Regions from separate parts of the Homo sapiens genome. Here region 1 is reported to be linked to region 2. Evidence: microRNA targets listed by miRTarBase, many of them from high-throughput screens and not tested one by one. Region 2 holds a microRNA gene; the other region holds the end of a gene's coding sequence.
Evidence for each region. The annotated mature microRNA hsa-miR-4639-5p reads UUGCUAAGUAGGCUGAGAUUGA and lies in region 2 at 1,775-1,796, opposite strand. An mRNA with a match to its seed (bases 2 to 7 or 8) in the 3' UTR can be bound and repressed. Matches are read on the target gene's strand: a 7mer-m8 pairs with bases 2 to 8, a 7mer-A1 pairs with bases 2 to 7 and ends in A, and an 8mer does both.

Region 1: the mRNA of PSAT1 is a reported target of hsa-miR-4639-5p. Seed matches in the 3' UTR shown: 7mer-A1 at 992-998 and 7mer-A1 at 1,128-1,134.

Annotation. Positions count from the first base shown.
Region 1 is chr9:78,328,646-78,332,062 of GRCh38, forward strand. It overlaps PSAT1 (phosphoserine aminotransferase 1), which reads left to right. Exons shown (of 9, transcript NM_058179.4): 9 at 336-1,448. The coding sequence ends at 441. Among named protein-coding and RNA genes, the nearest start is that of PSAT1, 33 kb to the left of the region's middle.
Region 2 is chr6:16,139,935-16,143,351 of GRCh38, reverse strand. It overlaps MIR4639 (microRNA 4639), which reads right to left and starts at 1,796; the gene lies at 1,728-1,796. It overlaps MYLIP (myosin regulatory light chain interacting protein), which reads right to left. Exons shown (of 7, transcript NM_013262.4): 3 at 1,542-1,727; 4 at 135-332.

The sequences.
Region 1 (3,417 bases), not on the chromosome of region 2:
GGCACTGTCACGACAGGCTCATGAATGTTGAACAGAATCGCTATCTTCTTCCAACTTACCTTTTCTTCCCCACATCTTGCTTGCTTTCTTTGCCAAGAGTGAATAGTTCGAATGACTCTAAATGTGAGCATGGTGAACCTTCACAGCTTAAGGGAGAATTTTCTGATGACTGAGACGTGTGAAGCTCTGTGCCAGGTGTCGGGAGTTTTTAGGTAGGAGACCGGAAATGATGGTCTCAGGTGCTGCAACTCTCAGGAGCCAGTGGCTAGAAAAAGGTGTTTTGATGCGAAATTAGACGTTTTTGTTCTCAATGCCTGGATCTTTGGTCATTCTAGGTCTGTGGGAGGCATCCGGGCCTCTCTGTATAATGCTGTCACAATTGAAGACGTTCAGAAGCTGGCCGCCTTCATGAAAAAATTTTTGGAGATGCATCAGCTATGAACACATCCTAACCAGGATATACTCTGTTCTTGAACAACATACAAAGTTTAAAGTAACTTGGGGATGGCTACAAAAAGTTAACACAGTATTTTTCTCAAATGAACATGTTTATTGCAGATTCTTCTTTTTTGAAAGAACAACAGCAAAACATCCACAACTCTGTAAAGCTGGTGGGACCTAATGTCACCTTAATTCTGACTTGAACTGGAAGCATTTTAAGAAATCTTGTTGCTTTTCTAACAAATTCCCGCGTATTTTGCCTTTGCTGCTACTTTTTCTAGTTAGATTTCAAACTTGCCTGTGGACTTAATAATGCAAGTTGCGATTAATTATTTCTGGAGTCATGGGAACACACAGCACAGAGGGTAGGGGGGCCCTCTAGGTGCTGAATCTACACATCTGTGGGGTCTCCTGGGTTCAGCGGCTGTTGATTCAAGGTCAACATTGACCATTGGAGGAGTGGTTTAAGAGTGCCAGGCGAAGGGCAAACTGTAGATCGATCTTTATGCTGTTATTACAGGAGAAGTGACATACTTTATATATGTTTATATTAGCAAGGTCTGTTTTTAATACCATATACTTTATATTTCTATACATTTATATTTCTAATAATACAGTTATCACTGATATATGTAGACACTTTTAGAATTTATTAAATCCTTGACCTTGTGCATTATAGCATTCCATTAGCAAGAGTTGTACCCCCTCCCCAGTCTTCGCCTTCCTCTTTTTAAGCTGTTTTATGAAAAAGACCTAGAAGTTCTTGATTCATTTTTACCATTCTTTCCATAGGTAGAAGAGAAAGTTGATTGGTTGGTTGTTTTTCAATTATGCCATTAAACTAAACATTTCTGTTAAATTACCCTATCCTTTGTTCTCTACTGTTTTCTTTGTAATGTATGACTACGAGAGTGATACTTTGCTGAAAAGTCTTTCCCCTATTGTTTATCTATTGTCAGTATTTTATGTTGAATATGTAAAGAACATTAAAGTCCTAAAACATCTAAGCCCTTGTCAATGAATTTCTCTACCTGCTTTTTAGACAAATTGTTCTTTATGATGGGAAAGCTTGAGGTCTAAAAATAGCACCTGCTAAGGGTAATTTAGTTCAACCAAAGATCTAAGACTTAATTCTTGTGCATCCATTTAAAAAAATTCAACACGGTGTGGGAGCTTTCCATTTGCTTTTGGAATGGGCATTATCAGCAAACCACCTTCCATTGCAGCTGAAGGTGTAAAGTTCTTTTTTTTTAGATGGAGGCTCGCTTTGTCGCCCAGGCTGGAGAGTGTGGTGGCGCAATCTCGACTCACTGAAACCTCCCCTCCCAGGTTCAAGCAATTCTCCTGCCTCAGCCTCCCGTGTAGCTGGGACTACAGGTGCCAGCCACCATGCATGGCTAATTTTTGTATTTTTAGTAGAGACGGGGTTTCACCATGTTGGTCAGGCTGGTCTCGAACTCCCGACCTTAGGTGATCCGCCCACCTCAGCCTCCCAAAGTGCTGGGATTACAGGCGTGAGCCACCGTGCCCAGCTCTGAAGGTGTAAAGTTCTATGAGCTTTGTCCCATTTGCCCCAGAAACATGCCACTAGGACTGTTTTGAGCTATCTTCCTGGTTTATTTGATTGCATAATGAGGACTCCACCAGTGTCTTGTCCCATCTCTGCACTGGTTAGTTGGCTCCCCTGTTCAGGTCACAGGCTCCAAGGCTTGGTTCTGTCATCTGTAACAGGAGGGTTGAAATAACTCCCCCACCACTTACCTTAAGGATGTTTAAAAGTTTAAAACAAGGGCTCGATGCAGGATGTGAATAATAACCACAATGAAGTTTTAAGTAGCAAAAGCCAGGCAGTCCATGGATTCCAACTAAGTGTTCACACATAAAAGTCATGCTCAGAGTCAGCCTCCCCTCCTTCCTCACCCTTTCATATGTGGTTGCACATCCCTGTCATCTGTATCAGACCTGTGCTTCTCAAATATCTGCTAATTTTCATTCCATTGCCATGTCAGCTCTGCTATGTCAGCCCTCAGTGGATTATTCAGCAGTCTCTTCTCTGCCCCCATATTCCCCTCCCACCACAGCCAGTTGAACTATGACTTCCCCTTGTGCTCTTTGTTGATGCATACAAAGTCCAGTACTCCCAGCCTGGCAGTCAGGACTTTGTAGCATGGGACATGGCCTCTTGCACCTCTCCTGCATTTGTGATTCTTGGAAAGTGGCATGCATTTGCCCACACTATGACATAAGCCTGGAGTTTCTGTGCCCACTCAGGAAGACCAGATGACACCCGCCAACCTCTTCCTAAACTCATTTGTGTCCTTTCCATTGGGACAATGTTCTTTTCCTTTGTTTTCACCAGGGGGATCCTTTTCTCCCATTATACCATCTCTGTTTTGTTCTTTACTATGCCAAGGTGGCTGCATATGTGCCTTCCCCATACAGCAGCATGGAAAGAACGATGGTTCTCTACCTCAAGCACCTAGTGTCCTGCCTTGCCCTTCGAGGTGCCCAGTGAAGTCTGTTCTTTTTAGACACAGGGTCTCGCTTTGTCACCCAGACTGGAGTACAGTGGCGTGATACTAGCTCACTGCAGCTTCGACCTCCTAGGCTGAAGTTATCCTCCTGCCTCAGCCTCCCCAGTAGCTAGGACTACAGGTGTATGTTACTGTGCCTGGCTAACTTTTTAAATTTTTTTGTAGAGACAGGGTCTCGCTATGTTGCCCAGACTAGTCTTGAATTCCTGGCTGCAAGTGATCCTTTTGTCTTGGCCTCCCAAAGTGCTGGGATTGCAGGCAAGAGCCACTGCGTCTGGCTGAATGAAAAATCTTAATGTAGGTCACGTTGGTCTTTCTGAGTACCATAAACTGAGCTTGGAGTAAAGGCAGAGAGGTATGATCTGTCACATAACATGGACCTTTTGTTTTTTTTGATGGAGTCTGTCTCTGTTGTGCAGGCTAGAGTACAGTGGTGTGATCT
Region 2 (3,417 bases):
AATGTACATACCAAAATGAAATCTTTCATTCCTAAGAGCTGACTGTCGAGTAAATCCCTTCCTATTTTCTATTACATTGACAGCTACAGATGTATACACATGCTTAGGTCAAAAAAAGTTAAGTCTTGGCTTACCTATTAATTGGGCTAAAGTCATCTTTACAAATTGAGATTCCTTCAGGTCCAACCCCAATGAGCAGTTTCTGCCCTTCGCTATCCCGCACAGAATGCCATTCTATGCCATAGTTTTCCATTGCCGACACAATCTGCAAAACTTGGTATTCAGCTGAAGCCTGGCTGGTCCCCTCCAACTCCTTATGTTTTGCAACAATGCTGGAGGACACCAAGAGGACAGAGAATTAAGTATACAGATATTAGCTTTAGAGATAAACCTATGTAGTCTTCACGAGTGAAATATACTAACACTGATGAATCACAACAACTTAAAACTTATGTATTACTGATGTTTCATGTATTTAGCGAACTTACTATAAAAAACGTCTAAGACACTGGGATCTCAACTATTAAATACTTGGTAAAAACACTTTGGGGATGCTGGATGGGTGATGAATTGGAAGAATTATGGAAAGTCTCTAAAAATATACATAAGTCAAATTTACATATTGGAAAGTCTCATGCATTTGTCCACATATAGTTTATAAGTATAAAGTTGACCCCTGAGGCCCCTGTGGCCAGGGAAGGAGGTAGGCCAACAAACCACAGGAGTCAACCTGGCATGGAGGCCACCCTCAGTCGAGCCTTCAGATGAGACAGAGTTCTACCTGCAGCTTGACTACAGTCTCATGAGCCAGAGGACCCAGCCAAGACATGGCCAGATTCCTGACCTACAGAACTGTGAGACAATTTTTGTTGTTTTATGTCACTAAGTTTTGGGGTAACTTGTTATGCAGGAATAGATAACTAAAATGCCTATGTTAGATCTCCTGGTTTAATTCTTGCTGGGATGAAGAAAACACCAATATACATAATAGATTTTTTATTTTAGGAGATTTGTACTTAAAGGCACAGATTTAAAAAATTCCCATTTTATATAGCATTTCATATTGTGTTTACATATTTTTCAAATAAAAGGCTAACAAATTTTTTGAAAATATTTGGTTAAATTGGGCAATGGCCCAGTCTTAACTTCACAAATTATGTGTATGTACCACAGATTCATCTTCTTTTGGAAATGCTTATACATTTGATAGCTCTATGAATATATGCAGTAGCCCTGATGCTGCCATGTTCATGCTCTGGTGTCTCTGGTCTTGCTGCTCCCTCTGTCCTGATGGCCATTCTTTCTGTCCCCTTGCTTGGATACCCTTTGGTCTGTATCACATGCAAATCCTCTATTCCTCTGGTACAGTATTTGACATAACATGTATATTATGTATGACTTCTTAAGTGCCTCGAACATCAGAGAGCTCAAAAATGTACATAAAACTGCATATTATGTGTGATTAGTTTACCTTCCAACCTTAGTTTCATCCTGTTTAAGCCTATTCTAGTTGTAAACAATACTATATTCAACAGCCTCACCTGTTCAAGGTGGCAGAGGAGAGCTCCTTGGCACAGAGCTCCTCATAGTTATACTTGGCAGTGTTCTGGTTGTAGTCTCCAAACTTGGTCTGGGCCAGGAGGGCACTGAGTTCCACTGCCTGCTCTGGGGAACACAAGAGGTGGCCTGCCAAGAGGGCCTCCTTGATGTGCAAGAAAAAGATATGCCTGCAAAGCAAGGTGAGAGTGAGGTTATGCTTGGGGATAACCTGACATCAATCTCAGCCTACTTAGCAATTTCACAGTCACTTTTAAGGAAAGCAATTTTAAAAGTCACACTGAAAATGCTTAACATTAAAGAACTTCAAAAAAAAATCATCAGTATTAAGGCAAAATCAAAATAAGAACTGCGTTTCTCTGGAATAAAAGTTGTGACCCAAACAAGATAAACTTATTTAACACAAGTTCGGTAACATTAAGGTTACAAAACATAAAATAATTACACATAAGTTTCTGCATTATAGTGTTTTAAAAGAAATTATTTTAATCAGAAAAATTGTATCTTGACATGGATTCTGATAGAATCTTAAGGAACTCTATACATAAAGACAAAATTCTCACCTTTATTCAAATGATACCCCAATCTCTAGTCTCAGTGCCAGCTTCTGTCCTAAGAATCACATGAAAAATGTCCAATCTCCTATAGGCTTCACCACCTGGATGTTCTTCGGTACCTCAATTTTGGCTCATTCAAAACCAAACTCCATATATTCTTTCCCAAGCCCTTTTTCTCCGAATGGAGACCACGGACTGACTTTGGACTCTTTGTCCTATTTCACTTGACTTTCTTCTCTCTGAAAACTATTTAAATCCAGTTCTATCCTCCCATTTGTACCTCCTCAATACTACTTGCAGGAAGAATTTACACTATTCTCTGCGCTGCTCTCCTCCTCCAGACTCCATGCAGGCAGCCTACCTTCCATGCTGCTTGTTTCTAGTATAAACTTGTCATTTCTCTGCTCAAAATCCTTCAAAGGATCTGTACGGCTTGCCAAGGGAGCACGTTGTTAACGTGGAGCTGAGGAGTCTCCGCCATCTGGCCCCAGCTTTCCAGCCACGTCTCCTGTCATTCCCTGCAGCTGCTATGCCCCAGGATAGGGAACGATTCCTCTCCCTGGGAAATCTAGGAAGCATGTTCATGCTCTGGTGTCTCTGGTCTTGCTGCTCCCTCTGTCCTGAGGGCCATTCTTTCTGTCGCCTTGCTTGGATACCCTTTGGTCTGTATCACATGCAAATCCTCTATTCCTCTGGTACAGTATTTGACATAACATGTATATTATGTATGACTTCTTAAGTGCCTCGAACATCAGAGAGCTCCAAAAATGTACATAAAACTGCATATTATGTGTGATTAGTTTACCTTCCAACCTTAGTTTCATCCTGTTTAAGCCCATCCTAGTTGTATACAATACTATATTCTACATTTACTAAAAGGTTATGTCACACTTAAAAACTCCTGTAAAATTCAGATACTGGTCACACTGCCCAAAACTCTGAAGAGCACCTAAACTGCTGTAGACAGATTGGCCTCAGTTATAACAAGTGTCCCTGGCAAATGTGAAGTTTTAACCTTCCTTCGATGACTTGTCATAACCTCTCAAACAAGGCTAATTGCCACATTATTCGTCCCATTAACAAATGAATTGTAACTTTGGCCAGGTGCGATGTCCTCAGCACTGTTTCTGTTTAATAATATATCTGTGTCTGACATTCCAGGTAGAGGAACATGAGCAAGGTAAGAATCGACTAAGGAGGAGGCAGTGAGGCTACAAATCTAAGGAGGTGCTATACTGAGAGTCTACAATGTCTGGCTGACAAGAGCCATTAATCTTATTTTCACTAAGAAGTATTTAAATTC